Linked DNA regions of Homo sapiens. The protein of the gene in region 1 purifies or fractionates together with the protein of each later gene. This does not show direct contact. Each region holds a gene or a part of one and is shown in the gene's direction. Other genes may lie near its edges.

Region 1 (3,659 bases):
CTTTATGCTGAATGATGCTTTACAGGGAGATACAGAACTCAACAAGATTACAAGAAGTAAGAAGTAATTATACTTCAGAATTAGCATGAGCTTCTTATCCATGGAAGGCACTGTGTGTTGGGTTATATAATTGTGTATGACAGTGGTTCTTACACTTTTTGATCTTAGGACCCCTTTACACTCTTAAAAATTGTTGAGCACCTGAAGAGCCTTCGTGTAGCTTATATCTGTTGATGATGTTTATTAGAAATTAAAACTGAGAAAAACTTAAAATATGTATTTATTAATATGCTTACAAATAATAATAGACCCACACCCATAACATAAATTGACAGTTTATGTAAAATGTTTTTCAAAACAAAAATTTAGTGGGAAGAATGGCATTATTTTGCCTTTTTGTAACTCTTTGTTCAGCTTTATAGAAGACAGCTGGATTCTTACATTGCTTCTGCATTCAGTCTCTTGAGATGTCACATCATGCAGCCTCAGGAACACCCCACTGCATGCTTGTGAGAGAATGACTGTAAACAAAAGTAACATCTTAAATATTATGTATGAAAATTGTTTTGACCTTCTGGATCCCCTGAATGGGTCCTGGAAACTTTCAGGGGTCCAGGACCACACTTTGAGAACCCACTTGTGTAAGCTATAGTTAACAGTTAAGGATACCTGCTCATATCAAAATAACTTTAAAAAATTAGAGAAATCCTTAAGGCTACCAACGTTTATGTTTCTGTAGAGACCTGAGGTTTTTGAAATGTATTAGCTGGGAAATAGAGCATGGGCTCTAGTAGTCCTTTGCTGCCAAAAAAGTTAACAGTCTAATCTAGCTGGGGGAGAGACAGGAAGCTAACTAGTTAGAAGATACATCCATGTGGTTTAAGGTAAATGTTGAAAATAGCTATCTCCTAATAACGTAAAGGCTGATTTATGTCTAATTGTTGCTTAAGGGATTCTAGTTTAAAATGAAAAAGTTTTAAATAAAAGGGCATTCTCTCAAGCTTTTTGTTATGTGCACATACCAGATGTTATTTTCAGAAGTTGGAGGCTTGGGCATTCCTTATTTTTGTGGGTAAAAGAGTTTAACCAGTGGGAAAAAACAAAAATTGTTTAAAAAGATGCCCTGAATGCAAGTGTTTTGATAACTAAGGAAAGCCAAGGACCAAGCATTTGAACTTGAGGGTTTGGGTTAAACAGCCAGTTAAATTAGAGATATTTAGTAGGATAGGCATGCTAATTTTTCCCTGATTAATTCTTCAATGAGTTGAGAGTGCCTCTTTAAGTTTTCAGTACACACTTGCCTTCATATTACTCTACCCAAGAAAAGTAAGTGTAGATCAAGTAAATGTTCTGCAATTTTGCACCAAAAACTGCAGATAATTCCACCCAAAATACTGGAGATAAACCCTTTTTTAAGAGATCCATTCAGTAGGATGAGGTGTTGATTATTGGTTGTCAGTGGTAATAAATTTGTAATGGACTGATCAGGTTGTGATAAAGAGAAGAAATCAACCTTGATGGAGTGATGGGTTATTTTGTATCGTATTTCTCCACAACCTACATTTAACACTCGTTTGCCCAGTGGACTAAATTTTCTAAATACAATCAGTCATTTCCTTGTCATTAGGTCAAATGCTTTTACTGCTTTTTAGTAACATTCTATGATGTCTTTATTAAGTGCCTAATACTTAATAGAGCAATTAGTAAATATTTGCCTGATAAATAAAGGAACTATCACTTAGATGTGTCTGGCAGGGTCTTTATGTTGAAAATAAACGCAGAGTGAACTTTCCCCAGAATGCTTTCACTAGCCCGCACTCCCAGTATTTTAGTCAGTAAACGTTGGCTGGATTGTGAGCAAATGACCATCTGCAGTGTTGTTATCACAATGAATTTGTGTTCTTTTGGCAGTCTGTATTTATAGATGGGCAGGTGGACAATTTAGTTGTAAATGTGGATGGGGTAGTTAAAAATCAGTGGACAGGTGATACTTTTTTCACATTAATTCTAAAAAGTAGTATTTGAGTTTTATATATCCTTCTGAAGAATTTAAACTTTTTTGGTAATATTTATAAAGCTTAAGTCAAATGTCTTTCTAGTCTTTCTGCAGTATTCCTCCCCAACCCCGTCCCCCAGAATCTTAGAGCAATCTCAGCTTATTTCTAGAGTCTCTAAATGATTGCTCATGGATGTGAAATGTGTGAAATTTAGAATGTGCTCCATGTATGTGTTTTGTTTAAAGAAGCTTCAGTATAGAGATTGAGCCTAACATTTACTTGTTGTGAAGAAGTTTTGACACATTGATGAGAAGTTCTTTCCCTAATAATATGCTTAATAGTGTATACAGAACATCCTTCATGGTCTAAGCAGAAGAAATGATGGAGTTGGGGGAAGAATTCGAACTCTTTGGTGTGGTTTCCTGTTATTTATCCTCAAAATAATTTATTCTCATTCTTTGCTTGTACACCATTAGCCTTAGGCTCGTGTAACAGCCTCCTTTTTCCTCATTGAAATGTATGTAATTTCCTTCTCCACTGGAATATAAAAGATTGATTTTGGATCCTTCAAGCTAGATTTAGAAATACTTATGTTTTTATAGTGTTTGCAGCTCAGTGAGTAGACCAGTGAGTAATTTAGTGTGTAGCTCAGTGAGTCATTTAAATTCCTGTTTTAAAATTTGAGTCCCTCTTCCATCAGGAGCTGATTAACATGTACATTTCCCCTAACCTAACCTGCTCGTTTTTTTTCTTTTTGAGCTTTTCTCCCCTTCTTGAGCTTGTTTGTTTGTTTTTAATATTTTTCCTTCTTTGAAAACAAAATGTTAGTCTCCTTTGATTAAGCTGCAGTCTCTGACCTACATACATACAGGTTTGTGTTCAACCAAGGCATTGAAATAAATAGATTTAGTCGGTAGATTATCATTGTTTGAAGTGGAAAAGGTATGCTGTTTAACATATTTTGATATTTTATGTTTATTCATTGCCTCTTTAGACAGGAGAGCAATTGCATTCTAGGTGTGTTAATAGAGCTTTCCTGGACAGATGGCTTGGAAGGAAGTACTTTGATGGGTTCTCAGTAGGGGCTAGTACTTTTTGGAGGGTGTGTTTGTGATTAAGCTTACCTTGATTGACAGTTTAGAATGCTGAGAATAGCATTAACAACAGTAACAGCTTGTTCATCTTACCTAGAATTGTCTTGTGCCAAGACCCCTCAAGATGCTCTGAGATTTCTGTGTAGTGGTTTCTTTTGAGAATGTAGGTAAGAATAGGTGTCCTTGAGACTGAAAAGAAATTCACCTAAAATTGTTCATTGTGGTTGTATCTTAAAATCTTTGGGGTCGTTGAATGAACTTTGGCTTAGAAATTTGTAGAGATCGTCTTTTTAACTGCTGTGAGTCTGCAGATGTGATTATCTATAGTAATTCCAGATGTTTTCTCATCTATTAGTTTTACTGAGTAGGAAGATAACTGAGAACAACATAAAGTAACTTCAAAGCAGTTTGCTAGCATTTAATCCTGACTAATTTAATTAATTATTCATCCTTGTAGTTTTTCCTATTTTATTGATTATGAAACTGAGACAAAGGTTACGAGTTGCCCAAGATGCTTGGGGAGTATTAAAGATAGCCCAAAGCTTAAACTCTAACACTGTTCAGACTT
Region 2 (2,620 bases), on another chromosome or scaffold:
AAAATCTGATTCCATTAATTGATCAAGTATAAAAATCTACGAAAACAATATGTTCTGCACATCACATCTGTACTTTTTTTTTTTTAAATATATTTTTTGAGACGGAGTCTCACTCTGTTGCCCAGGCTGGAGTGCAGTGGCATGATCTTGGCTCACTGCAACCTCCGCCTCCCGGGCTCAAGGGATTCTCCTGCCTCAGCCTCAGCTGGTATTATAGGCACTTGCTACCATGCTTGGCTAATTTTTGTATTTCTAGCGGAGACGAGGTTTCACCATGTTGGCCAGGCTGGTCTTGAACTCCTGACCTCAAGTGATCCACCCGCCTCAGCCTCCCAAAGTGCTGGGATTACAGGTGTGAGCCACTGTGCCCGGCCACATCTGTACTTTTAAGGGTACAGCTTTACAGTACATAGGAATTTGAGAACCACTTCACAGGAAGAGGGAAACAGCCCAATATTTATTTATGTATACACATAATCCCAAGTGTGTGCTGGGGCCACCAGGCCCTTCCTGGGGGAACAAGGACTGTCGTGCATGTGAGTGACGACATTAATAGCATTTACATACTGTACAGATGCAACCTTTGATGATACATATATTTGATAAAAATGAGAAAACAGATTTGTTGTAGAGTACCTGTCCACTTTTATAGCATGAGAACAGTACAATCAACTATTTATTTTGCAGTTACTCATTTCAGTGATTGAGAATTTCTGTGCTGTGCAGAGAGACGGCCTGTAATTGGTCTCATCATCCACTTGATTCTAACATGATCTCTGCCCAAAGTTCCATTTCTTGGGCTTTGATATTTATAATGGCGCCTGCTCTTCATCTTGTCTTACGCTTTCCGAGCAAGTTCAAACCAGAAAGAAAAGGTGAGGCTAGAAGCCCAAAGTGAGTGAGTGTGAGGACCACAAGGAAGCCCACCACTCCACAGTAGATGATCAAAACCACATCCTCACGTGGGAGGTAGCACTTGGAGAGGGTGTAGTCTGTGGGCGTGATGCTACCCTGGAAAGGAGAAGGGAAAGTTATGCTGAGAGCACCAGGCACACGTTGAACACCGCAGTCTTAGAAACAGCAGAGGGAAGACTGCCTTCTCAGGTCCCCCTCAGGTGAGGCAGGGAACGGGCCCTCCTCACCTGAGACCAAGGGGGCCCAGCCTTCTCCCTGCACAGCTCACCCCCGACCAGCCCAGGCTCCAGCAGGAGAGACAAGTAAGGCCCAAGTGTGCCTGAGTGGAAAATGTCTGGGACACTGACCTGTCAAAACTGGCCCCTGGCTCACTGGGTTCCCATCAAATATAGTGGGGGATCCATAACAGAGATTCAGAGAGGCACCGTGGAGTTCCAGGGTCATCGGTCAGCGAGGAACAAGGAGGGAAAGGTGTCTTCCTGCCCCTTGATGCTCAACTAAGCATCTGTTCCCTAGAAATACATGTGTCCAGGTCGTCTCCATGGGCTTTTCTTTGCAGATACTTTTATGTGGAACAACAGTGGCAAATGTTTTCATTTACTTTGAATTTGAAAATGTTAGGGTTTCCTCCACCTTTTTATGAAGTAAAAGAACCTGTCGTACCAGCATCATGAGCTGGATGCAGGAGCCCATGGCTGAAAGGAGTTAAAACGCCCAGTGGTCATTAAGTGAAACATCTTTTATCAACCTGCAAAAGCTGCAGCGTTCTCTGCCAGGTCAAATGGGCATGTTTAGAAAATAAGAGAAGATGGCTGAGTATAGCTAATGAATAAATGGTTGTTTCTTTAGAAAATTAAACACACACAGAGTGTAAGAGGAGAGGATACGGCCCTCCCTGAAGGATAAAGTCCACCTGGACGGTGCCCTGCCCTCGCTTCTCACATTAACTGCCCAGGAATGTCATGCTGATTGGTTCCCGGAAGGGTGTTTGGCAAGGGGCAGTGTATGGAGCTACGTGTAGAAGGAGAGAAATTTGTGTGTGGCTTTTGTAAATTTTGACCGATTGCAGCAATTAAATAGTTGATTACTGTGTTGATTTAAATACTTATGAAAGCTTTCAGACAAAAATAAACTTTCACGTTACCATGATGAAACTGGGGTTGTTTCTGTTCCTCCAACTGAAAGATGGGACGCTGAGCTCGGGGACTCGGCCCCCGTGGTGCACCTCGCAGGCGCTGTGCGTGTGGCCACTGAGAACCAGGCGCGGCTGGAGCCACCACAGCAGCTGACAGTGGCCGAGAAGACAGCAAAGCAGGCTGTTAGCTCATCCTCAACCAGGCTCTCACCGCTCAGCAGACGGCCGCTGGCCATCGCTTCTTTCCTTAAATTACATACTAAATCCTTATTTTGAAGGACTGGTTTATTTTTTTCCTTAAAAATCCTTTGGTTTATTTACACTAAATCAAAGGTAAGGTCAGCCCTTTGTTCTCATCCCAGATTTTATATACTTTTTACGGTATTTTATCTTTATAAATATTTTATACATTTATCTTATAAATATTTCTTATATTTATATATTATGTATAATGTAATATGTATTATATAAATCTATATAAGAAAATGCATTTTAATTTTAATTAAGTCCCTAAAAAATTGACTTTTCAGTTCCATTCACATTTCTAAATACATTTAAGTTGGTGAAAAA
Region 3 (3,659 bases), about 17 Mb from region 1:
GCTTTGTTTTGGTAGGGCTGTATTCTGCTTTTAAAAACCTTATTTTTTATTTAATTATAAGGACAATGTGTATATGGGGTTTTCCCCCTCAAACTTGAGAAAGAATAGAAAGTTACTAAGAAAAGCCACCTATAACACCATGATAGATAACTATTATTAACATTTTGTCAGGTATACCCCTGGTCTTTATGTGTGTATTCTTAATATCCTAAACTATTAAGAGTCCATTCTAAACACTCTCAGCCTGGCTCTTTCTTAAGAACTTACCGAAATGTAATCTGCCTCACCATCTTATTTCATATAAGATGATAATAGAAGTCATCTGTTACCATTGCTTCAACTTTTCTACTCTTCTGCTTCATTTAAATGTGTAAATTTGTAAATTACAGTATCTTACTCTCTGACTCAAAACCTCCCAGTAGCTTTTCAATATACCAAATAAAATTGAAACCTCTTACTGTGGCTTATATACCTCAGACCAGCAAAGTCCACTAGAAATACAACGTTAGTCACAAATGGGAGCTACATTAAGTAATTTAAAATTTTCTGGTAGCCACATTATGAAAAAAAGAGAAACTGGTGAAAATACGTTTTATGTAACCCAAAAACTATTATTTCAACATGTAATCAGTATAAGAAATTGTTGATGGGATAGTTGTCTTTTTTTAGACTGTCTTTATAATTTGGTGTGTATTTTCCACTTAAAGTACATCTCAATTCAGACTAGCTACATTTCTTTTTTTGTATTTTTTTTGAGACAGAGTCTTGCTCTGTCTCCCAGGCTGGAGTGCAACGGTGCGATCTCAGCTCACCGCAACCTCTGTCTCCTAGGTTGAAGTGATTCTTGTTCCTCAGCCTCCCGAGTAGCTGAGACTACAGACATGCACCACCACGCCCAGCTAATTTTTTTTTTTTTTTTTGAGACGGAATCTTACTCTGTTATACAGGCTAGAGTGCAGTGGCACAATCTCGGCTCACAGCAACCTGGGTTCAAGCGATTCTCCTGCCTCAGCCTCTCCCCAGTAGCTGGGACTACAGGTGCATGCCACTACACCCAGCTAATTTTTGTATTTTTAGTAGAGAGGGGGTTTCAGCATGTTGGCCAGCCTGGTCTCAAACTCCTGACCTCAGGTGATCCACCTGCCTAGGCCTCCCAAAATGCTAGGGTTACAGGTGTGAGCCACTGCACCCGGCCTAAATTTTTATGTTTTTAGTAGAGACCGCGTTTCACCATGTTGGCCAGGCTGGTCTTGAACTCCTGGCCTCAAATGATCTGCCTGCCTTGGCCTCCCAAAGTGCTGGGATTACAGGCGTGAGCCACCATGTCTGACCCAGACTGGCCACATTTCAAGTGCTCGGTAGCCACATATGACTAGTGGTTACCCACATGGACAGTTCCATCTTATAAAAGTACTATAACCTAGTTATCTGTTGGGTGTAACTTAAGTTTATTATTTTTTTCTTATTATTATAAGTAGTGTGATAAATATAAGAGCTACTACTATGTATTTGTCATTGTTTCTTTCGGATCTAGTCTGTCTTACAATCACTGAATCAAAGCATATGAACATTTCTTAAAGTCTTTTCATAAATATTGCCAAATTTTGTCCTTAAAAGTTTGACTAACATCAAACTTTAATATCAAATTTGACTAAAAATATGACAGAATACACATTTCTTGTATATCTTTACCAGCATTATCTGTCTATCCATCTACCCTCCATCTTTCCTTCCCTTTCTATAGGAATCATCATATATTTCTTTAATTAATTATGATGGTAAATAAACCTGGATATTGGACATCTTCTAGTTTATCTTTTGCCCATTTTGGCTGGTGTTTTATATTTGTGATACCCTTTTAAACTTTTTATATTTTTAGGATTTAGGATAGCAACTCTGCTATATACTGCAAATATACATATACACACAAATATATATACACATGTATACATACACACACACACACACACACACGTATGTTTGGGTTTTTTAAAATGTTTTTTGAGACACGGTCTTGCTCTATCACCCAGGATAGAGGGCAGTGGTGCAGTCATGGTTCACTGAGGCCTCTACTTCCTGGGCTGAAGTGATTATCCCGCCTCAGCCTCCTGTGTAACTGGGATTACAGGCGTTCCCCACCATGCCTGGCAATTTTTTGTGGAGATGGGGTTTTACCATGTTGCCCAGAATGGTTTCAAACTCCTGGGCTCAAGCAATTTACCTGCCTTGGCCTCCCTAAGTGCTGGGATTACAGGTATGAGCCACTGGGCCTGGCATGCAAATATTTTTCCTGGCTCTTCATTTACCTAACAGTGTTGTCTTTTCTCTTGCTCTCTCTCTCTCCCCCTTTTTTTTTTTTTTTTTTTTAACAAAACAAAAAAACAGGCAAGGGTTTTTACTTTTTAAGAAAATTAGGTTAATACTTTCTTTTATGGCTTCTACTTTGCTTTTATATTTAAAGGCTTCTCCTACCCAGTTAAGTTTTCTTCTAGTTCTTTTACGGTTTCATATTTCACATCTGTCTTTTTCTGTTCATCTGGGATTTATTTTGACATATGTGAAGTGAAATAACCTCCCTTATTTTTCCTTAAAAATTTTGGCCCCACTAAAAAAAAAAACAACTTGTTGCCTTGAAATAAAGCTGCCTTTATCATATGTTAAATGCACATCTTCTTGGTTCTTTTTAGGTTTTATTGAAATATCAATGATTTGGTACCAGTGTACACTTGTATACATGGGGCATGGTATTTTCATTTTGTAAACAAGTGTGTTTCTGTTATTGTTTAAGTCTCCCCCCCATCCCCCTTTTTTGGTTGTTGCTTTGTTAGTCCTCAGATTTTTTAGTTTATTCTTTTGGGGCTTCAAATTAGTTTTGGTTTTGATTTTTTTTTTTTTTTTTTTTTTTTTGGAGACAGAGTCTTACTCTGTTGCCCAGGCTGGAGTGTGATGGCATGATCTTGGCTCACTGCAGCCTTTGTCTCCAGGTTCAAGTGATTCTCATGCCTCAGCCTTCTGAGTAGTTGGGATTACAGGGGTGTGCCACCACACCTGGCTAATTTTTGTGTTTTTAGTAGAGATAGGGTTTCATCGTGTTGGCCAAGCTGGTCTCGAACCCCTGACCTCAGGTGATCTACCCACCTCGGCCTCCCAAAGTGCTGGGATTACAGGCGTGACCCACTGTGCCTGGCCAGTTTTGAATTTTTTAACTTAAAAAAATTGCAACTTTTATAATATTTTATGTTTTATAATGAAAAAATGTAATCCTATTGAATGTTCCTCTGAGCATAGCTTTAGCTATATTACTTAAATTTTGATGAGTAATATTTTTATGTTTATATATTTAAAAACCCCTGCAGTTGCAGTTTTTATTTTTTCAACAAGTATTTAAGCACCTGCTCCATCTAGACATTCTGCCAAGTGCTGAGGACACAACTATGTACAAGACAAGGTCTCTTGCCTTCATCCAGTTACAGTCTGTCAATATAGACAAACCAACGAATAAAGAATTTTCAGATTTCGACAAGTGTCTAGGAAGTAAATAAATAATAGAAGGTGCTAATTGGATGATCTGAGACTGTCTCTCTGAGGATGTCATGTTTAAGTTGATTGGTGGTACCAAGGTGTGTATGGGAGTTTCTTTAGCTTTCCCAATCTATCGA

The links.
Region 2: the proteins of USP3 (region 1) and GNAL purify together in Homo sapiens (affinity purification with mass spectrometry; one large-scale study listed by BioGRID and IntAct). This does not show direct contact.
Region 3: the proteins of USP3 (region 1) and ZFAND6 fractionate together in Homo sapiens (co-fractionation; one large-scale study listed by BioGRID). This does not show direct contact.

What each region holds. Positions count from the first base shown.
Region 1 is NC_000015.10:63,507,591-63,511,249, forward strand, and holds part of USP3 (ubiquitin carboxyl-terminal hydrolase 3), read left to right. Parts: intron 1-3,659. UniProt on the Homo sapiens protein: Deubiquitinase that plays a role in several cellular processes including transcriptional regulation, cell cycle progression or innate immunity.
Region 2 is NC_000018.10:11,883,617-11,886,236, forward strand, and holds the end of GNAL (guanine nucleotide-binding protein G(olf) subunit alpha), read left to right. Parts: 3' UTR 1-828; coding exon of another isoform or gene 829-1,011; 3' UTR 1,012-1,412; coding exon of another isoform or gene 1,413-1,427; 3' UTR 1,428-2,059; downstream 2,060-2,620. Other genes in the region: MPPE1 (metallophosphoesterase 1), read right to left, coding at 829-1,011, 2,060-2,200. UniProt on the Homo sapiens protein: Guanine nucleotide-binding protein (G protein) involved as transducer in olfactory signal transduction controlled by G protein-coupled receptors (GPCRs).
Region 3 is NC_000015.10:80,062,656-80,066,314, forward strand, and holds part of ZFAND6 (AN1-type zinc finger protein 6), read left to right. Parts: intron 1-3,659. UniProt on the Homo sapiens protein: Involved in regulation of TNF-alpha induced NF-kappa-B activation and apoptosis. Involved in modulation of 'Lys-48'-linked polyubiquitination status of TRAF2 and decreases association of TRAF2 with RIPK1.